7 linked regions of the Homo sapiens genome follow. The protein of the gene in region 3 purifies or fractionates together with the protein of the main gene of each other region. This does not show direct contact. Each region holds a gene or a part of one and is shown on either strand. Other genes may lie near its edges. The genes, in order: ASAP1, MAP4K1, LRRK1, SOS1, SOS2, ERC1 and SH3GLB2.

Region 1 (4,071 bases), on a different chromosome or scaffold from region 3:
GGTAACTGGCTTACAGGCCAATGCAGCAGACAATAAAATTGCCATTCGCCACCATCAGTCTCAAACTTTCACAGTATTCTTCCTCCACGGTAACCAGAAAACAAGTGATAGTACATAGCAGCCTTTTTTTTTTTTTTTTACTGGCTAGAACAACACTTTACTCACAAAGAGAAGAGACAGAACAAGATTAGCTTTGATTTGAGTATGGTACCCCGCAGTGGGTCTTGCCAGGCAGCTGACACAGCTTAATGGTCTGTATGCATCCTACCTGGGCTGTGGGCAAAGAAACCCCTTCCTTCCCAACTAGGAATAGGTAATAGTACTGGGATTGGCCAGGTGCCATAGCAGCCTTTTCATTTGCTTTTTTTTTTTTTTTTCTTTTTTAAATGTATCACACAAGCCTGGAGAGAAGGGATTTTCTTTAGCCCCACTTAACAGAGAAAAGGCTTAGCAAGGTTTGTGTGAGGTCACCCAGCTGTAAAGGCAGCCAGGCGCCCTGGTTCAGAGCAAGGACTCTAGAGCCCCACGCCTGTGGGAGAGCATGTCACCTCTCTGGGCCACTGTCCCTTCATCTGTAAAATGAAGATTGTAAACTGTATAAGAAATATCCACCTCAGGGGGTTGCTGTGTGGGTACAGCAAGATCCATGTAGAATGCTGAGCATATTGGAAGTTCTGTCGTTTGCTCTTTCCTTATGTAGTTTATGACCGTTAAGCTCTCTGTAGTTCACTAAAGGGTGGGAAGAAGGGTAAGCCTGGGATTCCACCGCCAGGTCTGTGGGCAGACTAGGCTGGGCTCTTACCCACTGGGTTTGTCGTGGGGCCACTGCCTGCTGCCTCCATCCTGACCACTCTCTTTTCTCCCTGCAGATTGGCCACATCGAAGGACAGCCTGAAAGGAAGGGGGTCTTTCCAGTGTCCTTTGTTCATATCCTGTCTGACTAGCAAAACGCAGAACCTTAAGATTGTCCACATCCTTCATGCAAGACTGCTGCCTTCATGTAACCCTGGGCACAGTGTGTATATAGCTGCTGTTACAGAGTAAGAAACTCATGGAAGGGCCACCTCAGGAGGGGGATATAATGTGTGTTGTAAATATCCTGTGGTTTTCTGCCTTCACCAGTATGAGGGTAGCCTCGGACCCGGCGCGCCTTACTGGTTTGCCAAAGCCATCCTTGGCATCTAGCACTTACATCTCTCTATGCTGTTCTACAAGCAAACAAACAAAAATAGGAGTATAGGAACTGCTGGCTTTGCAAATAGAAGTGGTCTCCAGCAACCGTTGAAAGGCATAGAATTGACTCTGTTCCTAACAATGCAGTATTCTCAATTGTGTTACTGAAAATGCAACATTAGCAAAGAGGTGGGTTCTGTTTTCCAGGTGAAACTTTTAGCTCCATGACAGACCAGCCTGTAGTTATCTGTGTACACAGTTTACAGCTACAAAAACCTACTTTGGTATTTATTACAGAAAAGTGCTCAGTTAAATGTAAGTGTTATTCCTTCAGCAAAATATTCACTGACCCAAAACTCTTTATGGCATTTTACAATGCACACAGCCTCATGCAAGTTTAGACAAGTGGATTTATACTGTCTTATGAGTGCCCGCCCCTGATATATTACCTCATTATGCAAAAATAACATATCTTTCATGACTATTTTGACAAAAGTTTAAAACACATATGAAGTTCAAATTTCAGGAACCAAGGACTGCCAGAAAATATTAGCCTCTACATTACGCATGCATTTAGAAGCTTACCTGAAATCTGCCTTTTATAAAGGAATAGTATGGATAAGTGGAATTGTACATTTTTTAAACTTGATTGCCATTAAAGCAGAAATTATAAGGTTGCAACAATATTTGTTTCTAATCACTGGCTTTCTCAAGAGTATGGATTGACATATTGTGTTATGAATGCACATCTCTCAGATGTGTTGAAGCATCCATTGCATCCATTTTTTATTATTTTCTTAGTTTTGTTCTTGGACAAATTTAAACTTTTAAAAGATTATTCAAGATGAATTTAAAAGTCAACCCTTCACACAGTTTCCCTACTGTATGTAGAATCCAGGTGCTGAAACCAAGTGTTTCTTTTCCCATGCTCTTTGTTAAACCCCAATTATAGATAATTTTTCCAGTCTTAAGCTCTGTCCACCTTCAAGTCAATTCATAACCAAGTTTTTGAACGCTGCTATGAATTGCACTGTGAAAAGCACTCTTCCCTCTCAGTTTTCTTTTCATCCCAGCCATGTTTATCAGATCCTTAAGAACATTGTATTTCAGTCTTTTACATCAGTCTGAATTTTGGAAAAGAATGCAATAGTTGTACTCCACAGTCAGTGGAACTGTTCCCTGAGTCCGAGGCTCATGTGTCATTCTGGCACTACATTTGCTTAAATTGCTATTTTGGCAACAGCACAGAAAACTAATATTTTTAAGCAGAGAATCTTGGCAATGAGTGAGAGATGTTAATTTCACAGAAGCACAACTCCCAACCCAACCCTTAGGAAAAGCCCTCTTCCATCGTTACAGTGCTCAGTGAATATTAATTTAGTTCTGCTTAAGTGGTTGCTATACAAACTTTGAATAGCCACCTAATAAATAAACCTTGCATGACAAACCTGCAAAATATTTTATCAGCTGTTATTGGAAAGTGATTTTAAGCAATTGCTTCCTCAGTGTCAGGGCACATGTGAATTTCCACACCAAACAGAGCATGAGGAACCAGTTGACATGCTGGGTTGTGACTGGCAGCTTTAGCAGCCTCGGTACTGAAGCCACACCAGTGTCCGGATGGAAGTCTGCATCTGAGGTTGCTCAGTGTCCCGGTCATTCATTTACACATTTTAACTTGCATTAAAGAGCTGTTCTTTTCTGTGGCCTAGACTCTTTTCACTGATCTCAAAATAAACTGGTTTTTTTCAAAAAAAAAAAAAAAACAAAAACAAAAAAAAAACACAAAAGCTGCATGTCTAAAATTACATGGAGTTAGTGTCTATTCTTTTTCCCCTTTTGCAGCAACTTACACAGCATTTTTAACACCTTTTTTTTCTAGTTTTTTTGTTCGGTTTTGTTTTCCATCAGGAATTTGAGTTCTCTCTAACCCAGCTTACTGTGGGACATAGGAAAACTCAGTAGAAATACCTTTGGTGATCTTGTTGAGTTTAAGTCTGATCTTGATCTTAAACTCAGTAAGCCACTATCTGCAATTTTGTACATTATATAGTATTTTGAAGATATGGAACCTTATGAAAAAAAAATAGCAAATTAGTTCTTTTTCCCCCAGAGGGGAAAGTTATGTTCTGCAAATAGTGTGTGTCTTATTTTACTGTTGAACAGCAATTGCTATTTATTTTTTTATTGCCTAGAACTTCAACATGTTGTATAGGAATCCTGTAGTGCCACTAGTTAAATGCCGAATTCTCATCTGGATGTTACCATCAAACATCAGTACACTTGTCATTTCACATGTGTTTAATGTGACAGTTTTTCAGTACTGTATGTGTTAATTTCTACTTTTTTTAATATTTAAAATTGCTTTTAAATAAACATATTCTCAGTTGATCCCAAACTTCTGAAATCAGGCCATTTTGTGAGTTGTTCACTACCCTGCTGACAGGAGAGAATCAAGGCTTCCTCTGGCTGTGCTTTCGGGTATATAGATGACACAGGTCACTCCAACCCTTGTCAGAGATCACTCTGGATACATAAAAATATGTGGCACTTGCCCCGGCTTACAAACTGTGGGCCTTCGGCCCCTTTCTGTCCTCCACCTTCCGCATTCCACCTCCACCACGTCCACTTGTGCGCCCGTTGATGTGAACAGGGCAAGAAGAGGGTGGAGGGGCACGAGGCTTACATGTTGTCGTGTGGACAGCACTTCTGTCACGTAGCTGTCACAACTAGTGCTGCCACGCAGTGGAGCAGACCTGGCCCAGGCACTCTGCCTGCATTAACCCCTGAATCCTTAGCAAGCCCAGGAGAAGCGTGAGCCCCTCAGCTTTACAGAGCTGACAAATGAGGCTCAGAGGCATTCATTCACACACAGGAGACATGTGGCTTGTAAATCAC
Region 2 (3,407 bases), on a different chromosome or scaffold from region 3:
TCCCAGCTACTCTGGAGACTGAGGTGGAGAATCGCTTGAGCCAGGAGGCTGTAGTGAGCTGTGATTGTCGCCACTGCACTCCAGCCTGGGCAACAGAGCAACACCCTGTCTAAAAATATATATATATATATGTCTCAAGGGTTTGAAGATGTGACCAATGAACTCTTTCTATCCCCAATCCTAGGAGTCTTATGTCTGGAAGATGTACCAAGAGAGATGTTGGGATTTCTTCCCAGCTGGTGATTGTTTCCGTAAGCAGTATGAGGACCAGCTTAGCTGACACACCCCCAGCTGGCCCTCCACCCCCACCTCAAGTGCCTTATTCTCACAGCAAGCCCCTTAGTCCCCAAGCCCCTCCCCCTAAGGCAGCTGGGGGAGAGGTGACCTAGTACTGGAAAATAAATCTGTGCTACGCCCCCCAGCATCACTGTGTTGGCCTGCTGAAATTTTGGAGGAGTGGACATCCAGGAATTGTTTCCCCCAAGAAAAACAAGATGACAGCAGAGGCTAAAGTCATGTTTATTGGGAGATGAGGACATGCCATGACCACTAGTGTGTCTATGGGGGAGGGGGTGCAAGGACTAGTTCCTGACACCCCCCTAGGGACTCATTCCTGGATGTAGAGGTTGCTGGGAGCAGTAGGATCATCCACTGGGCGTGTCTCCACCACTACAGGCCTGTGGAAGGAAGAGATAAGTCAGTTCATTTATTCATTCATATGTTCATTGATTCATTAATTCACAAAGTAGTTAATAGAGACTGTGCCAGCCCCATGCTGAACTATAGCAGTGAATGGGCAGACACGGTCCCTGCCCTTAGGAAGCTTGCATTCTAGAGAAGGAGATCAACATGAATCAGTGAATTACATGAGTGCAAAAAAGCATGGCATGTCTGGCAGGGAAACCTAACCCAGGAGGTCAGCCCAGACTCCCCAGAGAATGGATGGTGCAGCCTGAAGGGGGGTTAGGAGGGAACTTGGTGAAAGGGCAAGGAAGAGTGTTCTGGCTGGGGAGAACAGCCTGTGCAAAGGATTTGAGGTGGGAGAAAGGCTGGGACTTGGCTGGAGATGTCATGGCCTTGTGGGCTGTGGCCAGGATTGAGTCTTTATCTTGAGGCCATGGGAGGATTTTAAGCAGGGAGACAGTGACACGATCAGATTTGGATTTAAAGTGACCCTTCTGGCATGTCAAAAGGACACAGGGGCTACTTAAAGTGGTTCCCACTGGCTAAATTTAAGACCATTTGTGCCTCAAAATAAATAATGACAAGGCCGGGCATGGTGGCTCATGCTTGTAATCCCAGCACTTTGGGAGGCCAAGGGGGGCAGATCACTTGAGGTCAGGAGTTCAAGACCAGCCTGGCCAATATGGTGAATCCCATCTCTACTAAAACTACAAAAATTATCCAGGTCCATCCTGGCTAACACGGTGAAACCCCATCTCTACTAAAAATACAAAAAAAAATTAGCCAGGTGTGGTGGCAGGCACTATAGTCCCAGCTACTCGGGAGGCTGAGGCAGGAGAATGGCGTGAACCTGGGAGCCAGAGCTTGCAGTGAGCCGAGATAGCGCCAGTGCACTCCAGCCTGGGCGACAGAGCGAGCCTCTGTCTCAAAAAAAAAAAAAAAAATTTATCCAGGCATGGTGGTGCACGCCTGTAATCCCAGCTATTCGGGAGGCTGAGGCAGGAGGATCGATTGAACCTGGGAGGCAGAGGTTGCAGTGAGCTGAGATCACACCACTGCACTCCAGCCTGGGTGACAGAGCGAGACTCCATCTCATAAATAAATAAATAAATAATGACAGTAATAGACTATAACCCACAGAATAAAAATCCATGAGACCATGCTGGTATAAAGAAAGAAGAATGGAGAAGACACAGCTCTTCTTTAGAGTAGAATGCCAACTAACACACGCAGAAGGAAACATAGAATCAGAAAATCACCATTTATTGTTAGTAGCCACCTAACAATAATAGATTCAGGGAAAAATCAATTGATTCTAAAACTAGTGGGCAGGCCAGGTGCGTTGGCTCAAACCTGTAATCCCAGCTACTCGGGAGGCTGAGGCAGGAGAATTGCTTGAACCTGGGAGGAGGAGGTTGCAGTGAGGCGAGATCGTGCCACTGCACTCCAGCCTGGGGGACAGAGTGAGACTCTGACTCAAAACAACAACAAAAGACAAACAAAAAACAATAAAACTAGTGGGTGAAAATCTGATGAGAAACAACGTATTTACAGACTATTTACCTCGTCTCAGTGAATCTCCCCAAAAGATACTTCTTTTTTTTTTTTTGAGACAGAGTTCACTCTTGTTGCCCAGGCTGGAGTGCAATGGCGCGATCTCGGCTCACTGCAACCTCCGCCTCCCGGGTTCAAGCGCTTCTCCTGCCTCAGCCTCCCGAGTAGCTGGGATTACAGGCATGCAACACCATGCCCGGCTAATTTTGTATTTTTAGTAGAGACAGGGTTTCTCCACATTGGTCAGGCTGGTCTCAAACTCCCGACCTCAGGTGATCCACCTGCCTCGGCCTCCCAAAGTGCTGGGATTACAGGCGTGAGCCACCGCGCCCGACCGGTGGGATACTTCTTATTACAAAGAAAAACAGAGGCTGGGTGCGGTGACCCCTGCCTATAAGCCCAGCACTTTGGGAAGCCTACACAGGTGAATCTCTTGAGTCCAGGAGTTCCAGACCAGGCTAAGTAACATGGCGAAACCCTGTCTGTACAAAAAATACGAAAATAAGCCAGGTGTAGTGGTACGCGCCTGTCATCCCAGCTACCCGGGAGGTTGAGGTGGGAGGACTGATTGAACCCAGGAGGTCGAGGCTGCAGTGAGCCATGATCGCGTCACTGCACTCCAGCCAGGGTGACAGAGAGAGAATCTATCTTTAAAAAAAAAGAAAAAGGGAGAAAAAAGCAACTTCACAGTGGAGAGAACTGGCTGATTCTACCTTAACCAAATGACCGAAGTTAATATCACCAGTAATGGGACAAACTAGCATTGTGTACTTCCTGAAATGATGCACTGAGAAAGACATCTTTCTGCAGTATTCCTGCCCAAAATTCAGAACGTGGAAACCTCAAACACAGTTAAGGGACATTTTAGAAAACAAATTTCCTTTAATTTTTAAAAAGGTCAAAGCTCCTTTAAGACAAAAGAAGTTTTAATTATTTTTTCCGGCTTAATTATAAAGAAACATGGCTCCTAAGTGCCACCTATGATCTTGGACCAGAAAAAAAAAAAAAAAAAAAAAATATATATATATATATATATATATATATATATATATATATATAATCACGGGCGTCACTAGGACAACGGGTGAAATTTTTTGTTGTTGTTGTTGTTGTTTTCTGAGACAGAGTCTCGCTCTGTCACCCAGGCTGGAGTGCAGTGGCGTAATCTC
Region 3 (3,500 bases):
TCGGGGACTCAGGAGCCTGTGGAATGTGCTGAGAGCCTGAGGTCTCTGGCGGGGAAAGGGCAGGGGTCACAGCCCCCCTCCTGCCCTACCTCAAGTGCTTCCCAGCGGAGGGCCTCTAGTGTAATTCCATCTGAGACCTGGGGATGGCAGGAAGGCCCGGCCCTGCTTTGTTTGACCCAGCTCAGAACAGGATCCTGCACCCCTGCTCCTGCAAACTGATGGGGGAGGCCAGAGGAGGCCGCTCCCAGCCTGATACCACTGTCTTCCCTGGGGCTGTAAAATCAGCAGTTGGGGGATGGGGTATTCAGAGAACTCTGCTCCAGAGAACCAGAGAACCCTGGAGCCACCGCCAGGCGAGTAACTTCTCAGCACTTCTTAGCAGCAAGGAGTTCAGGGGAGAACTCCATCTGTCTTCTAGGTCCTTGGAGAACTAGAGGCCGATGGCAGAGGGGTCAGGCTGCAGCCCCGGGCCAGCCAGCTCTGATGTGTGACAGTCATTCCACAGGAATTACCTTCTCTTGCGAGTGCAAGCCTCCAGCCGGCCCAGCTCCTCGTAGGACTGGTAGAAAATGTCGAACTCCCTGGCGCCCCAGCCCCTCCAGACGGCCAGGCACCACTCTGTGTTTTCATTTTCAAAGGTGCACACAACAGTGTCCTTTGCCACCACGGCAGCATCCACCAGCACCCTGCAGAGAGAAGGGGGTCTGAGGAAACTCACAGGGGTTCCCACTCGGGTGGGGTTGGGACCCTCCCCCTGTGCCTTCTGAGGAAGGCGGAGCTGGCTAAGGGCAGGGGAGTGTGTCTGCTTGCCAGCCCTCTCTGGGGTGTGCTGAGATGCACCACTTCTCCCCAGTGGCCAGCCTGTGGGCTTAGGCTTTATAAAGTCCAAAGACGGGCTGTGGGCATGAGTTCGCGTCCATGGGCTTTGTCTGTAAGAGTCAGACTCCCTGGAAGGCCACAGAGGCAATCAGATCATGCATCCTTGACTCAGCTCCCAAAGCGTCCAGAAAACACCACTGACCCAAATTTCTGCTTGTGAATGGCTCATGACCGAGTTTAACTCAACTCCCTTGCCACTAAGCTCAGTAAGATTCTTCTCTCATTCTGTTTCTACAGGCTTAGGAAATACAGGATCATATATTAAATGGAAAACCTACTGCCCCAAAGTCATCACTATATACATTTTTTGAAACTGTGGACAGTTTTGCAGGATCGGTGGGTGTGTGCTACAGGTTTCCTTTTGGGCCACAGTGTGGCCTCCCTGCCCTGGTGGTGCCCCACCCCAAGCACATACTAATTGCCTTTCCTCCCTCTGTGTCCCGTGTGTGCGGCCTGCGTGGCACTGAGGTGCTCCTGCAAACTGGGATGTCCAGGGACCTCTCACTCCGCGTGGCCTTGCCAGGACCTCCCCTTAGGGGAGGAGCCTCCCTCTAGCGAGAAAGAGGTAAAATCTGGCTTTAGGGATGAATAGGAGAAAAACAACAGCTAAACGTTAGGACATTAATGGCAGGTATGCCAAGGTCCTAACCTGGGTGCTGCACACCCATTTCCTCCAGAAGCCCGACCTGCAAGCTGGGAACTCCATCAGTTCAAGGCTTCTACCCACAGGCTCTGCCAGAGCTCAGGAGCAGATCCAGATCTTGCTTCCAGAACCACTTACAGAGTAAGGGTCACTGGCCCAGGACTCACTGCAAAAGTTCAAAGCTGGCAGGCAAGGGAGTGCGACTGCCAAGGATGTCCTTGTCATTGTCCTGCTTTGGGAGAAGCAAGCTGACTGGTGTTTCTCCACCCTCTTATGCTCCAGATGAAATAAAAACCCACTTGCCCAGGGATGGGGGATAACTCATGCTGCAGGGAAACAGGCCTAGTGTGAAATGGAAGAGCTCCAAAGTACACACACACACACACACACACACACACACACACACACACACATTTGAACTGAGGACTTTTCGTAGGGGAGATTTACCGTGTGGGGCTCGGTAGTCAAAGTGCGGGGTGTAAACACTGTGGGGAGCTGCAGCTGGCGCCAGCCTCACATCACTGCAACCATGTAGACCATGTCCCGGACAGGCCACCCTGCCCAGCATACCTTCACAGAGGAGACTGGCATAATCCTGGGGGTCCCCACCCACAGACAGGTACTGAGCTATGTCTCAGCCCAGGAAGGGCAGGAGCTGAGACCCCAGGCTTGGAGATGACAAGGTGTGCCTGTGTCATCTGTCCCCATAGGGTGCTGTGTGGGCTGGTGGACACCTCGGGTAGGGTTTCCTGCTTGGCAGGAAGAACAGTGAATCAATGACCTGGATGCATCTGCATGTCGATTGCAGCTGAACTCTGGCCCTGGAGACATTCGTTAGGTAGGGTACTAGGTAGGGTACTTGATCTACAGGTGCACTGGGTACTCCAGAAACAGGCAGCCATGGCCAGTGCGGAGCCCCTAGGAGCTGTCTGAGGGGCCCCATCTTGTTTCCACTTTGCCTTACAGCCACGTTAGTGGCTATGCTATTTGGGAGAATGGAAGGGCAGCAAAGCCACTGTGCAGGACCTGGCTGCAGGGCCTTCTGTGCTCATGCTGCTGCCTGGGTCCTAAAGGAGCTGCCACTCAGTCTTACCCATGCGGAGTCAGCTCTCGGGCTTTTAAGACGGCAATGACTCGGCCCCGCTGGGCGCCAGAATCCTTCTCCAGGCCAATGACGATAACATCTCCACCGCGCCTAAGCAACCAAAACCCAGAAGGGGAAGCGATTTGTCGGTAGCCGTGCTCTCCGGGGAGTGAAGCCGGTGTGCAGAAAGGTGCGGGAGGGAGGCAACAGACATGCAGTTTCTGCTAAGGGATTAAGTTATGGGGAGGGGACAGACTTCAAAGCAGAGGAGAATTTTCTCAGTGGAAACTGAGTCACAGTTGACTGTGGCTTTCCTTGTGTGGCACCTTAAGCTCTCTGGCAGGCAATAAGCTTTTGTGCGGCCACTCTTAGATTTGCTAAAGCGATCGCTTCCATTCCCAATGGAGGAAACCAACCCTCTTGGAAGAACAGCACCTGCCTCCCCACATGACCTGTAAGGAAGCCAGGGGGCTTCCCCTTGCTCTGTCCCCAGAGCAGGAGCAGTGGGCGTGCCCTGGATGGTGCCCTCACCTCGGGAAACGTACCTGGGGACCCAAATGAGGTCTCTGACGGCGAGGATCTTCACGGCCTGCAGGTGCTGGCTGAAGGTCTCCCCGTCCATGGGGGTCAGGTCATGCTCAGACCTGTCGGAGGCAGCACCGGGCGTATGTAGCATGTCTGAGTCCTCGCAGTCGGTGGAGAAAGGCACACTGGAAGAACTTGCTGGGGAGCTGGGGAGGCTTGAGGGGGACCTGGCAGCCTGGCGGGGTGGGGATGAGGAGTAGGAGGACATGGAGCAGTAGTCAGTGAGTGATTCCTGGTGGATCAGGATCTGCGTGCCCAGCTCCTCACTGTACATGATGCTCACGTCCGCGATGGAGTCCCCCTCAGGCA
Region 4 (3,500 bases), on a different chromosome or scaffold from region 3:
TGTCATCCCAACATATTCCACTCAAAGCAGTACAAAGTTCCATTGTTTAAGTTTTTCAAAAGGCAGAGTTTGACTAGAATTTTTTTTTATCAGTTATAATACTATACTATTCTTTTTTTACTCTTACGGTTTTTTCCCAAAATAATCTACTTTTAAAAACCTATAATTAATTATTTCAGCCAGTATCTGCTGCATATCTTATTCCTTGCTAAACACTTACACGTCTTCACTGGGAAAGCTTGCAGTCTTACTGAGAGATTAAAAATAATCATAGTGCAAAGAGATTCACAGTTAAACGCTAAAAATAGTGGTAAAGACATAAATACTGGAGAAGCTTATAGAAAGATGACCTCAGAATGAGCAAGAGTGGTCATGGAAAGCGTTGTGGCAAAGACAGGGCAGAGAAGTGGCCACGTACTTAGTGCTGCCACACATACATTCAAAGCCCTGCTCCACACCTTGCCCTGGCCAGGTCCACCTTTGAGGTGATGACGACAGTTGCTGAGAAAAGAGAAAAGACCACTGGCTCACTACTTGTTTCTGCTGCTATAATAGAGAGGAGAAAATGATGAAATGCTCTTTTTACCTTCCTGTTTGAAGATTGCCTGGTCATAAAAGGGAGTCAGAGGTCTGACTTCTCCATTTCCATCCCTTAGGGGACTCTTTAACAACAAAAAGAATGTATTACAAGTATGTCAAGCTGATAACGCAAGGCTTTTCCTCCTGGAAGATTGCTGTAGGTGATGAGTTTCTAATCCCAAATATATTTGCATTTACCAGGCTTTTGTGAGTTTAAGAAGTTATCTATCATATCTTTTTTTTTTTTTCTATAGAAAAATGCTTGTTTCTATCAAGAATGACTCCTTTATAAACTGGGGAGTATCTTTAAGAGTGGTTTCAACCCTGACTGTATAGTATCATCTGTTGAGGAGCTTAAAAAAAATATGTAGGCCCAGCCCACACTAGACTGGCATTGGTACCTGGTATCAGTATTTTTTAAAAACTTCCCATAGGATTCTAATGTACAGCCAAGATTGAGGACCATTTGTCTGTCATCTGGGATTATGCTTAATAAATTAATACTGTTTTTTAAATTAATTAGATTTCACTTCTAAGTCATTATCAGTAAATTTACTCAGTATCTAACTGACAAGAATTTCTAGCATATATTTCTTGATTAGTGCATGTAAAATTCTAAAAGAATTTCTATAGTATTTTCCAGGCAATAAGACAACTAGTGCCCCAAATTTACCAAATGCATGAGTCTAAGCCTGTGCTATATATAAATATACTCAAAGCCAAGTTTACATCTGTGTACACAAGTGTGCATGCATATGTACAATTAAAGACTATAGTTGTAACAGTCATGAGCTTGTGTTTTGATTTTACTCCTATTCCTGTATTGTATTAAGTGTACTATCATGTTCTTGAGGCATATCTCCAGGAGATATGTTTATTTCTTTTCCAGGAAAAGTGGGACATATATAAGTAGGGTAAACGCTAGAGCTAGATACTCCTTTAATCTCTATTACGTCAGATCTCTGGCTCCCTTTTACAACCAGGCAATCTTCAATTATAGGTGGCTAATAGGGAAGAAAATCATCGGCAGAGCAACAGCTTCATGTAATTTCAGAGTAGAAAAATGAATTTTAATCTTCTGAAAGGTAATATTAGAATTAGCTGGATTGCTACACTTAGGAATCATAGGTTCCAAATAAATATCAGTACATACGGAAATCAGATAATGGGACAGATTATTTGAAATTAGGGCTGCCTAGAAATCTGGAATGTGAGATCACCCTCCTTCTGACCAAATATGCTTGAATAAACTTAATATTCCAAATTATGTGAGGGATTGCCTATTGTGCAAAAAAAAAAAAACGAAATCTGAATTTAAAAAAAATTACCACAGTCTAGTATTATTTTAGTCTCTTGGATGTTATAACGTTATCTGTTCCATCTGTTGTTAATATGAGACACTGTACAAACAAACAACTATATTGATTTAGAATCAGTATAGATCACCTAGCTTTTTGTCTCAATTTTCCTACTTTAATGCTCTTGGGGCTTTCGCTTTTGATTTTCAGTTTTTTCCTTAAAATAATTAATATTGTTGAAATTAGACTTTCTAAATTTAAATTTATCAGAATTTCCTATGTAAAATGAGTCTAGGCACCAAATGTTTAATGACTTTAAAAAAAATGTTTATGACTATAAAAGGAAAAACCCTGTATCAATTTCAAGCTTGTTTTATATCCAAAGTGCTAGTTATTTTGTGATGAGAATATATGCCCCAAGAACATTTTTGAAAGACATATAATTAGTAACTTTTTTATTTTTCAACTTACATAAAATAAACTTATTACTTGTTTCACAAGTTTGAGTTTTCAAAATAATATTTACTAAATGGCATATTTATATACATCCAGCTGAACTTTTTGCTTGAATTGGGTTTCTACATTTTAAAAAGTCTTTCAGTAATATACGATTTTTTTATGAATGTTTTTCATTTAATAATTATGAAATCAAGTAAAGCTAAAAGGAATCTTAAATTCCCAATATGATATCATTTTTTTCTTCTCAAAAGTAAGTAGTAATGAGGTTTTACTATAAACTGTTACAGCATTCTTTAAAACGACAATGACAATAACATTTTCATCATAATACAAATTTTTGCAGATGAGTTGAATATATCAATGAAAGAAAAAAATCTACTTTTTCTTGTTTCCTTTCACAGGCAATGATACCGTCTTTATCCAAGTTACTCTGCCCCATGGCCCAAGTTAGTATATTTGGTTTAAGACTCATAATTCTTGCTTTGGCTTTAAAAATCAAACCAAGTGTAACCTTTCCTGCTAAAACTCTTCTTGGGTCTGGCAGCATTGGTACCTTGCTTGCAACATCCTAGAAGTGAGGCCTTCACTTGTGCTATCTTTAGATCATAAGTGATTTGCTTAAATTTATATATTTCTCATGCTTTTTATAAAACCTTGTTTCTCTCTTAAAAGAACATATTAAATAAGTGGCTTCCACATTTAACCATTTCTTTTTTCCAACTATAGAGTTCTAAGTATATTTTAATGCTCAACTTTGAAAAAAAAAAAAAGGCAAGAGCATGCATGCGCATATGGGAATGCTGGCAGCTACATGCAGTTTCTAAATCACAAAATATACTTAGCCTGATGGCAGGATAGATTATAGACAACTGCTTTTGACTTTAGAAGAACTTTCTTATAATTGTAATTATTCAAAGTATAGCCTAAATACTGATAAACAAAATAAAGTTCCATTTTAATTGTAAGGTAAACTAACAAGTCACTAAATTCCATTATTTTAATTATTTAAGCTAATATTTTTTTGCTGTCCTTTCATACAATTTCAAAATATGTACAATGGAAAATACTAGTTACAAGCTGAATTAACTATATTCTTAAGAAAAAAGGTAGGTGATCAAAATGTTGATCATTTAAATAATATCAGTACACAAAGTACTCTTTTTA
Region 5 (3,500 bases), on a different chromosome or scaffold from region 3:
TTTGAAAAAACTTTGTACTAGCATATATTCTTATGTAAAAGAAGAAAATAATTTTTTATGGACATGGGGTCTCGCTATGTTGGCCAGGTTGGTCTTGAACTCCTGGCCTCAAGCAATCCTCCCATCTCAGCCTCCCAAAGTACTAGGATTACAGGCATGAGCTACTGCACCTGGCCCATGGAAGAAAATAATTTTTGGTTGTTAATTTTTAACATGAGATAATGCTAAATCCACTAGTTACATTAAAATTCCTTTTGATTCAAATATGCAGGATATAATCAAATTACTGTTCCCTTGAAAGAGAGTCCATGGTTAATACAAAAGACATATAGTTGATTTATGTCAAGGGGTAACACAGGTAATGCTTTGAATACTCAGCATAAAACACTTTAATGGAATATTATTGCTCCAAATATACCATACCAAAATTAAACCAAAAATAGAAGGCTACTTAATCATTGCTGACAGGGAGCCAAGTACAGCAAGTTAAAGTACATTCCTACCGCTCATCTAGTTCTGGCTGAACTCTTCGGGTCAGTTTGGGTCATTATTAGTTTGGAATAATTCCAAATGACTCCCTCGAGTTCTACTGTTACATTCAGCGGCTTTAGGAATTCCAGAACAGGCTCATGTCACAAAAATCACAGGATCTCTTATTAGTTTTTGGCTTTGACTTGAAGTAATCTTTTCAAAAAGCAATTCTGATCAAGTTAATCTAATTACTTTGCTATGTAAATGAGAACCCAACAGGACTTCCTATTCTCAGGCAGAGACCTTAACTCAGTGTACCTACAGTCTACCATACTAGCTTCATCCACTTATTCTTCTTGTTTTTTAAAATAAGTCATTAAATTCAGAATCTGAGACCTATTCAAAACAAACAAACAAACAAATCATGTTCTTACTTTCCCCTCAGCCTCAAATCCTTCCCCCCCGCCCTTTTTTTTTCTTGTTAATTCTACTGATCTTTCAGATAATTGTTTACTTCCTTATTGTCTGTCTCTCTGCCACAGCCACTTAGAACACAAGCTTTATAACAGCAGGGGCTCTGCTACATCTTCCGTATCAAGAACAGTGTCTGCAGCCAGGCGACGTAGCTTACACCTGTAATCCCAGCATTTTTGGAGGCCAAGGTGGGAGGATCGCTTGAGCCCAGGAGTTCAAGACCAGCCTGGAGACAGTAATATTACTATATTTGAATATATAATCCAGAAAGAAGCACAAATGTTGCTTGCTTAAAGTCTTCTTTGACTCTCATATATCAATGACACCAGTTATATTTTCTCAGATCACCCTGTACTTTTCTTGTGGGCCTCAGGAAAGATCCAGTGCCATCTTCTAAAACAAACTTCCAAGAGACATTTGTACAAACGCAGAAACACTAGGATCTCAGTAGAACTTCACAAAACCATTTTTAAATCAAAGCCCCTACCGATCTTTTTCCTTGCCGTAGACTGCTATTAATTAACCCAGACATTCTCTCACACCTCTTGCCTTTTAGATATCTAAGAGCAAATTGTCACAGGGTGGGGAGGTCGATATTTAACCTGAATCTAATTGGACTCAGGAACAAAGTAATTCAACCAATTCTTTCTAGCTTTCTCTGACATTTTTAACTACAGCTGGCAAGAAAACAGCCATGTTCTTTTCTATGGCTAGCCTGGTGAAAAACACCTTACAGAAAAGACATCTACAAAATAAATATCAGGGACTGTAAAATCTGATAAAATGATTTTGAGGCATATTTCCCATATGAAGAATGCTGATTTATCTCAACATATAATCAAATAACACATGCATATAGTACCAAGGGATTTCAACGACACAGGTAATAAACTGCATTTACAAATATACACCATGCTCTTTTTTCCCCAAGTAACACAATAGCTTCAATGATCTTGGGGAGCAGTGGTGAAGGCAATTATGTTCTAGGCTCTTTTAGGGAAGATACATAATTTAGCAGTAATGTTAACAATCCATGCATTATCCATTAGTAGTGTCATTTCACTCTGCTTTGTAGCTCTCTGTTTTTAAATGATCTAGGTGAGGTTCTATTTTAAAAGTTTAAGAACAAGCAAAAAGCTAAAGAACACCACATTTCTATTCCCAAAATTATTTTTCCATAAACCTATTTGTCTATCTCTGTGTTTCTTTTTCTTTCTTTCTTTCTTTTTTTTTTTTTTTGAGACAGAGTCTCGCTCTGTCGCCCAGGCTGGAGTGCAGTGGTGCGATCTCAGCCCACTCTAACCTCTGCCTCCCATGTTCAAGAGATTCTCTGCCTCAGCCTCCCGAGTAGCTGGGATCACAGGCATGCACCACCACACTTGGCTAATTTTGGTATTTTTTTTTTTTGAGACAGAGTCTTACTCCATCGCCCATGCTGGAGTGCAGTGGCGCGATCTCGGCTCAACTGCAAGCTCCACCTTCTGGGTTCATACCATTCTCCTGCCTCAGCCTCCCGAGTAGCTGGGACTACAGGCGTCCGCCACCACGCCCGGCTAATTTTTTGGGTTTTTTTCTGTATTTTTAGTAGAGATGGGGTTTCACCGTGTTAGCCAGCATGGTCTCGATCTCCTGACCTCAGGTAATCTGCCCGCCTTGGCCTCCCAAATGGGATTACAGGCATGAGCCACTGCGCCCAGCCCATCTCTGTGTTTCTATGTAATGCAATGAATACTTGAGATTGGTTTTTTAAAAATCCCTTGAATTTTCAATGTTGACAATGGTGACTTTGTCAAATACATATATATATGGATCTATATATGGGTATATATGGATATATACATGGATATAGACATAGATATCCAGTTTTCATAAAAACTAGCCAAAACTGGAAAATAAGCAAAAGAATACTGGCTGTGTTTCAGTACAGTGCTATGCTTGAATCTTTTATTAATTTCTACTGACTATTTTACACATCTATAAGATTAAGTTACAGCTTTTCAGCAGATAGAGATGCAAGTAATTTTTTTTTTTTTTTTGAGATGGAGTCTCGCTCTGTCGCCCAGGATGGAGTGCAGTGGTGTGATCTCGGCTCACTGCAACCTCTGCCTAGCAGGTTCAAGTGATTCTCCTGCCTCAGCCTCCTGAGCAGCTGGGATTACAGGCACACACCACCACACCCAGCTAATTTTTGGTATTTTTTAGTAGAGACGGGGTTTCACCATGCTGGCCAGGCTGGTCACGAACTCCTAAACTCAGTTGATCCACCAGCCTCAGCCTCCCAGAGTGCTGGATTACAGGTGTGAGCCACCACGCCCACTGAGATGCAAGTAATTTTTAGCCAGAGGAAAATATAACCCAAAGCCTACTCTTTTATGTTTCTTGTAGGGTATTAACTAATTCTGTATGTAACCCAACAGTCTTAATATTCCCTTATTAAATTGCCTATAAATACCTCCTCAAATTTTCATATTAAGTGACTTTAACATCTTACTAGTTCCCTCATCAATGGGCTGAATCAAAATAATTGATACATGTTCATTTACATTTGCATGGAA
Region 6 (3,500 bases), on a different chromosome or scaffold from region 3:
ATTAGCCAGGCAAGGTGGCAAGCACCGGCAGTGTGGCTCACGCCTGTAATCCCAGCACTTTGGGAGGCCGAGGTGAGCAGATCACCTGAGGTCAGGAGTTTGAGACCAGCCTAGCCAACATGGTGAAACTCCATCTCTACTAAAAACAAAAATTAGCCAGGCGTGGTTGCCCATACCTGTAATCTCAGCTACTTGGGAGGCTGAGGCAGGAGAATCGCTTGAACCTGGGAGGTGCCGTGAGACGAGATCGCATCACTGCACTCCAGTCTGGGCAAAACTCCATCTCAAAAAAACAAACAAACAAAAAAGTTAATTAAAAATAAATAAATACACAAATAATGGCTTCAAGAAAGAATTCCTTCAAAAGGTAAGTTATATTCCTACAGTAAAATTATGTTTAAGGTCTGAATTTTATTTCTTGAGAAGTTTTTACAATTTCAGACACTTAATTTTTTTTGTTTTAAGACAGAATCTTGCTCTGTCACCAGGCTGGGTGCAATGGCGTGATTTTGGCTCACTGCAACCTGTGCGTCCCAGGTTCAAGCGATTCTCTCACCTCAGCTTCCCAAATAGCTAGGACTACAGGCACACACCACCACACCCAGCTAATTTTTGTATTTTTAGTAGAGACGGGGTTTCACCATGTTGGCCAGGATGGCAGAGACACTTAATTTAAGTTCACACAAATTTTCATCCCAAAATTTTCATCCCATTGGGTTATTTTTTTTTTTTTTTCTGAGACAGGGTCTCGCTCTGTCATCCAGACTGGAGTGCAGTGGTGTAATCCCAGTTCACTGCAACCTCCGCCTCCAGGGTTCAAGGAATTCTCATGCCTCAGCCTCCAGAGTGGCTGTGATTACAGGCGTGCACCACCACACCCAGCTAATTTTTTTATTTTTTAGTAGAGATGGGGTTTCGCCACGTTGCTCAGGCTGGTCTTGAACTCCTGGCCTCAAGTGATCCACCCACCTCAGTCTGCCAAAGTGCTAGGATTACAGGCGTGAGCCACTGTGCCTGGCCTGATTATCTTATTTCCATGCAAAAGGGCTTCCAAACATAAATGCATTAACAATGAGAAAAAATGAAACTAATATATACAAAAGGGCTGTCACATAAAAATTATCTATTCATCACTTAGCACACCATAATAAAGTTAAAAAGAATACAGGTGTTTAGTTTCATTCTTTGGTGAACAACTAAAAATGACTGTTCAAGAGTTGCCACCTTTCTGAAGCACAGCCCTGATCATGCATCTCCTACTCAGAAATCTTCAATAGCTACACACGCAGTATCTCAAGATTGGAAGGAATCTTAAAAATCACCTAGCGGGCTGGGCACAGTGGCTCACGCCTGTAATCCCAGCACTCTGGGAGGCCAAGACAGGCGGATCACCTGAGGTCAGGAGTTTGAGACCAGCCTGACCAACATGGAGAAATCCCGTCTCTACTAAAAATACAAAATTAGCTGGCCGTGGTGGTGCACGCCTATAATCCCATCTACTCGGGAGGCTGAGGCAGGGGAATCGTTTGAACCCGGGAGGCGGAGGTTGCACCATTGCACTCCAGCCTGGCGACAGAGTGAAACTCCATCTCAAAAAAAAAAAAAAAAAAAAATCACCTAGCACCAGGTTCAATGCTTGCAACCTGGCAGAGGATGCACTACCTCATAGAAACATTCACACCATCACTGAACAGCCATGGCTCTAGAAAAATAAAAAGCAATAGTAAAATGGAAGGTGGAGGAGAGGGAGAAATCAAGAACACCACACACATTTCCGGCTTAAGCACCCAGTGGTGTCATTTAACAAATTAAGAAACACCAGAGGAAGTGTAGGAATCATACATTCCGTTCTGGATGTGTTCGGTTTAAGGGGCATCCAAATGGAAACATTCAGTAGCAATTCGATAGAGTGGTCCTCAGACTCAGGAGAGAGGTAAAAACTGAAGACATAAAAATGAATACTCAGCACACAGATGAAAAATGAAATAGAAAGCGATGAGAAAGCCCAAAGAAATTCAAACATTTAATAAATGAGCACAGAAAGACTCAAAAGGTGACTGAGAGGCCAGGCACGGTGGCTCACGCCTATAATCCCAACACTTTGGGAGGCCAAGGCAGACAGATCACCTGAGGCCAGGAGTTCGAGACCAGCCTGGCCAACATGGTGAAACCCCATCTCTACTAAAAATACAAAAATTAGCTGGGTGTGGTGGTGCACACCTGTAATCCCAGCTACTCAAGAGGCTAAGGCAGGAGAATCACTTGAACCCAGGAGGCGGAGGTTGCAGTGAGCCAAGATTGTGCCACTGCACCCCAGCCTGGGCGATAGAGCAAGACTCTGCCTCAAAAAAAAAAAAAAAAAAAAAAAAGTGACAGAGAAAGAGCCCAGAGAACCAGCAAGAAAAACAGAAAAGTGCTCTGAAGACCTCAAGAGAAGAGAGAGCTTTACAAAGGAAGGAGGGGTATCCGCTCTGTCAAATGCTGCTGTGGTAGACAGTCCTGAAATGGCTATGAGTGATCTCTGCCTCCCAGCATTCATGCAATTGTGAAATCCTGCCTTGAGTGCACTGGACCTAGTGACTGGCTGATAACAGAATACAACAAAAGTGATACCACATCACTTCCAAGATAAGGTTACAAAAAGATTCTGGCTAATATCTGTCCTCTTTTGAAGACAGAAGCACTGAGATATCATATTTTAAGTAGTCGTACGCAGAAACCCAAATGGCAAGGGACTCACCTCTCCAGCAAGCAGCCAACAAGGACCTCAGGCCTGCCAATTGCCGCATGAGTGAGCTTGGAAACAGCCTCCCCAAGTAGCGCTTTGAGATGACTGCAGCCTTGTGAGAGACCCTGAATCATAGGTGCCAACTGCACCCACATTCCTGATCTACAAAATCTGTGAAACAATAAATGTTTCTTAAGTTAGGGGGTAATTTGTTATATAGCCAATAGAAACTAGCACAGCTGCTAAGAGGTTAAATAAGAACAGGATAGTAAAATAGACATTGGCTATTTTCATACATATTTTCACTAGCTATTTTCAGTTTCACTGAAATAATGGCGATAGAAACAAGACAGAAATAGGTTGAGAAGTCACAGGTGAAGAAATGGAGATACACAGCAAATGCAGAAAACTCTTAAGTGTGTAAAGCAGAGAGCAACTTAGAGCAATAAAGTATAAATCTGGAGTTTTTTATTAAGATGAAGAGACATTTTAAAGTTTAAATGATGATAACAAGCCAATAGGGTGGAAAAATACACTCTCATGGAACTTCATTCTTTTATCAAGAAACTCCTCTAAAAGTCTTCAACTTCCTTGGGAAATGTTCTTGCTACCTCTCTGCCTTAACTGAAAGCTGACTTTCCAATCAGGACACCTCTTCTCATATAGTCCTTTTAAGTGAAAGCTACTCAGTCTCTTCCACTCCACACCCAATACTGGGAAATGAGGCTGGTACCTTCCTTCCTGCCAGTGCCAGTTCCAGACCACTATTCCC
Region 7 (3,500 bases), on a different chromosome or scaffold from region 3:
GCGTGGCCGGCCCGTGTGGCCCCCATGCTGCTTAGGAAGTCCCCGTCCAGGAGCACTGGAAGTTGCTGTGAGAGCCAACTAGGGTTGGCGGCCTGAGGGACAGTCACCCAGCCACAGAACGACGGCACGGAAGACATGAGGCAGCATGCTCACGAGAGAGGTGAGGGTCTCACCTCCAGGGGCGGGAAGGAGAGAAAGTGGGCAGACAAGGTGTAGCAGTGGTGACAAGCATGAGGGAGAGGTGTGGCCTAGTCCCCAAACTACATAGGAAACACCAGACTTCCCAAGAAAGCCTAAAAACCAACAGACACCATGACATGCGAAGCCTCCACGATCCTGTCCTCCCCACCTCCTGCCCCAACTCCCCTGGGGGCCCTGCCTAAGCCTCAGGACAAGACATGCCCTGCTCCAGGACCTCTGGGCCTTAAGCACAGCCTCAGGCCCTCCCGCCCCCCAGGCGCTCTCCAGGCCTACGACGCCATCCCTGCCTCCTGTCTTTAGGGGTCTGTGAACTCCAGAAAGGCACGGCCAGGCCTCCTCCTCTATCCTCAGGGCCTCCCCAGGGCCTGGCATTCAGAGACAGCAGGAGGTGGAGGGGCCCTGGGGATGGGACAGCTGCCGCCCTGAGTTCTCCACACTACTCAGTGTGGCTGGCCCTGCCGCCAGCTCCAGCGTTTTGCAGAGGGAAACAAGTCCAGCTCCATGGCCACAGGGCACCGGGGCCAGGCCGTGGACAGAGGTGGGGGCTGCTGCCCCTCCCCAGTGTCTCAGGACTGACCTGATCACATGGCAGTGCCCCCGCCTTACCCAAGCTGGCTTCTAGCTCCTGTGCAGTCAGAGGCAGTGGTGTGGGACGTGGGGAGAGAGGAGGACGAGGGGTGGGGTGGGGGTGGGGTGCGCTTACCGCGGAGGCGCTGGCCGAGAGAATGTAATTACGAGGTCTAGTCTCCTGAAAGTCAGGCACCGTCTGGCGGGGAACAGAGTTCATGTGGGGAGGGGGTCACCCTGGGCCAGGGCCAGGGTCGAGGTCAGGAGGCTACCCCAGAGTCTTGCACAAGGAGATGCCAAGAGGCCTGACCCCAGGGACGGGGATACAAACACAACACAAACCCCCTTCTCCCGACTCCAACCACCTGGAGATGAGGGGCCTAGGGACTTGGAGAGTCCAGACAAAGATCAAGTGGCTGCAGGCACTGGAGCTCAGGAGAGCAAATGCGGTGAGGAGATGGCCGAGGCTGCCTGAGCAAGTCACAGGCTGGGCTCTCCCCTGCCAGGGGCCACAGCCCCCTCCTCCCCAGACCAGTGGCACTCAGATGCCCCAGGGTCCCGCAAACACAGCCCACCCCCAACTGGGATGGCTTTTTCCATCCCAGAATCCGCACACCACATCTCTTGCTCCTGCATCAAGGGCCAGGCCCCTCCCGACAATGAAGGTGGACAGATGGATGCATGGGCAGACAGAGTGACAGGCGTCCAACATTTGCAAAAAGCTGACTCACAGGCCCCAACGCCTGGCATCCCCCCCTAAACCAGAGGCCCTGCACAGTAGAGGCTCTGGCGGGGAGACCAGCTGCTTGCAAAATGCCCCAAGGACGTGGGCTGGCCATGGCACCGTGGGTCCACGGGCAAGATGGGCAGACCGGAAGCAGCACAGCGCGTGGGACAGGTATACTCACATCTCCCTCACACTGAGCCAAGTTACCCAAAGCAGGACGGAAAGGAACAAAAACAAAGAGTTAGTGAGTCCACAGCGCAGGCAGGAGCAGGCCCCCCAGGCCCCAGTGGGAGGGGACACCAGGCGGTCGGGCGGAGGGAGGCACCACAGCCTGCCCTCCTGAAGAGTCCTAACGTGTGCGTGCTTATGGGGACAGAGCTGTGGAGCTTGAGTCCTCTGGAATGCTGTTCCTGGGGCTGCCCAAGTCCTAGCTCTGGAAAGGTGGCCTGGCCCAACCCCAGGATGTGAGGTTGTCCAGGCCCACCAGGTGAGGGAGAGGCCACACCACTGCAATGACAGGAAAGGCTCCTCTGGCCTGGCTGATGGAGAGAGTGTGTTCTGGCTGAGTTACTCCAGAGACGGTGTCTGGCCCGAAGTGACGGGGGAGACTGTCCTGTTCAGGTGCCTTAGAAGAGGTCATCCCAATAGGCACAGGTCACCCTAGCCAACCCCAAGATTGAAACAACTACACCCCTGCCTCTGATCTAGACCCCACACACTTGAGTGACCTGAGACGGTTCTCGCCAGGGGCAGTGCTGGCTCTGGGGCCACACTATGGGAGGGGAACGCAAGGTGCATGGGCAGCTGTGAGCCCAGGCTAGGCCTGGCCTCCCTCGGCTAATCAGCTGGCAGCCACAGGTAGCCATCTCCCTAGTAGGCCTGGGCCTGGGAGTTCCCTCTGCAAGGTATGAGGCAGCCTTTAGGCCTGGCAGCCCTGAGCAACCTCTTGTGCCAGGAGGGTGTTCACCCTTGGGCCCAGCTCCTCCAATCCTGGCCTCGCCCTGGGCACACTGTCCCAGGCTGCGTCCCATTGACCCAGCCAGGCTGAACAGGCCTCAGTGAGCTGGGAGTGAAGGGGGCGCCAGATGGCCCAGGCCCTATCCAATCTCATGGGACCCCTCGGACACGGCCCTGAGCAAGCGGGCGGTCCAGCTCCCAGGTTTTCCACACCATCGTGGGGGCGCCTGAGCACAGGGACCCTCGGCCTGACGTTCAAGCAGCAAGTAGTAGAGTTAGTAAGAAGGTGCCATGCCCGGGCAGAGCCGGGGACAGAGCCGAGCATCTAGGAGGGCAGGGCAGGGCATGCAGGAGACTCCAGCTGCCTGGCGGGGTGGTGCACCCAGCTGGGGGCACTGCTGGTCCGCCCACACCGTAGATATCTCCCTGGGAACCAGAGCTCGGGGGCCACCAAGGCTCCCTTGAGGGCAGGGACAGAGAGGCTCAGCCCAGCAGCCCCCAGCCAGGCATCTCCAGCCAGGGAGAGGGGAGAGAGGTCATGCCAAATACCAGGTCCCTTCATGCCACCACCCCTTGGCTCCAGCCAGAGCCTGGGCCAGGAGGCCAGCGGGGAGCGGGGACACCTACCGTGGCTTTGGCTTCTGCAGCCTTGGCCTTCTTCAGCCTCGCTTTGCAGGCATCCAAGTCCAGACGCCGGTTTTGGAGGAGCCGCCTCTCCTTCTACAGGGCAGGGCATGGGGACAGTGAGACCCTGGGCTGCCCTGGGAGACCCTGAGCCATGCATGGCAAGATTGGTGCCGGGGACGATCAAGTCAAGATAGGGAAACTGAGGCCCAGAGATAGGAGGTCACTCAGTCCAAAGGAGCCCTCTCTGGGGAGGCCTCAGGAGTTTTGTAGCCCCAGCACTGGAAGAGAGCCTGTACTCAAAGGCTCTGAGGAGGGAACTGCCATGGTTACCAGGAAGCGGAATAGTCCCAGGGCCCTCACCGAGATGGTCTTCCAGTCCCCCTCCAGGAAGTTGCGCAAGGGTGTGAGGAAGCTGATGGAG

What was found.
Region 1: the proteins of LRRK1 (region 3) and ASAP1 purify together in Homo sapiens (affinity purification with mass spectrometry, with the first as the bait; one study listed by BioGRID). This does not show direct contact.
Region 2: the proteins of LRRK1 (region 3) and MAP4K1 purify together in Homo sapiens (affinity purification with mass spectrometry, with the first as the bait; one study listed by BioGRID). This does not show direct contact.
Region 4: the proteins of LRRK1 (region 3) and SOS1 purify together in Homo sapiens (affinity purification with mass spectrometry, with the first as the bait; one study listed by BioGRID). This does not show direct contact.
Region 5: the proteins of LRRK1 (region 3) and SOS2 purify together in Homo sapiens (affinity purification with mass spectrometry, with the first as the bait; one study listed by BioGRID). This does not show direct contact.
Region 6: the proteins of LRRK1 (region 3) and ERC1 purify together in Homo sapiens (affinity purification with mass spectrometry; one large-scale study listed by BioGRID and IntAct). This does not show direct contact.
Region 7: the proteins of LRRK1 (region 3) and SH3GLB2 purify together in Homo sapiens (affinity purification with mass spectrometry; one large-scale study listed by BioGRID and IntAct). This does not show direct contact.

Annotation. Positions count from the first base shown.
Region 1 is NC_000008.11:130,051,604-130,055,674, reverse strand, and holds the end of ASAP1 (arf-GAP with SH3 domain, ANK repeat and PH domain-containing protein 1), read left to right. Parts: intron 1-869; coding exon 870-944; 3' UTR 945-3,571; downstream 3,572-4,071. UniProt on the Homo sapiens protein: Possesses phosphatidylinositol 4,5-bisphosphate-dependent GTPase-activating protein activity for ARF1 (ADP ribosylation factor 1) and ARF5 and a lesser activity towards ARF6.
Region 2 is NC_000019.10:38,587,141-38,590,547, forward strand, and holds the end of MAP4K1 (mitogen-activated protein kinase kinase kinase kinase 1), read right to left. Parts: intron 2,136-3,407; coding exon of another isoform or gene 2,038-2,135; intron 678-2,037; coding exon 608-677; 3' UTR 501-607; downstream 1-500. Other genes in the region: RYR1 (ryanodine receptor 1), read left to right, coding at 185-280. UniProt on the Homo sapiens protein: Serine/threonine-protein kinase, which plays a role in the response to environmental stress. Appears to act upstream of the JUN N-terminal pathway.
Region 3 is NC_000015.10:101,065,857-101,069,356, reverse strand, and holds part of LRRK1 (leucine-rich repeat serine/threonine-protein kinase 1), read right to left. Parts: coding exon 3,152-3,500; intron 2,718-3,151; coding exon 2,616-2,717; intron 687-2,615; coding exon 509-686; 3' UTR 1-508.
Region 4 is NC_000002.12:38,988,552-38,992,051, reverse strand, and holds part of SOS1 (son of sevenless homolog 1), read left to right. Parts: intron 1-2,737; coding exon 2,738-2,782; intron 2,783-3,500.
Region 5 is NC_000014.9:50,225,079-50,228,578, forward strand, and holds part of SOS2 (son of sevenless homolog 2), read right to left. Parts: intron 1-3,500.
Region 6 is NC_000012.12:997,723-1,001,222, reverse strand, and holds part of ERC1 (ELKS/Rab6-interacting/CAST family member 1), read right to left. Parts: intron 1-3,500. UniProt on the Homo sapiens protein: Regulatory subunit of the IKK complex. Probably recruits IkappaBalpha/NFKBIA to the complex. May be involved in the organization of the cytomatrix at the nerve terminals active zone (CAZ) which regulates neurotransmitter release.
Region 7 is NC_000009.12:129,011,332-129,014,831, forward strand, and holds part of SH3GLB2 (endophilin-B2), read right to left. Parts: coding exon 3,440-3,500; intron 3,173-3,439; coding exon 3,080-3,172; intron 1,689-3,079; coding exon of another isoform or gene 1,677-1,688; intron 968-1,676; coding exon 905-967; intron 1-904.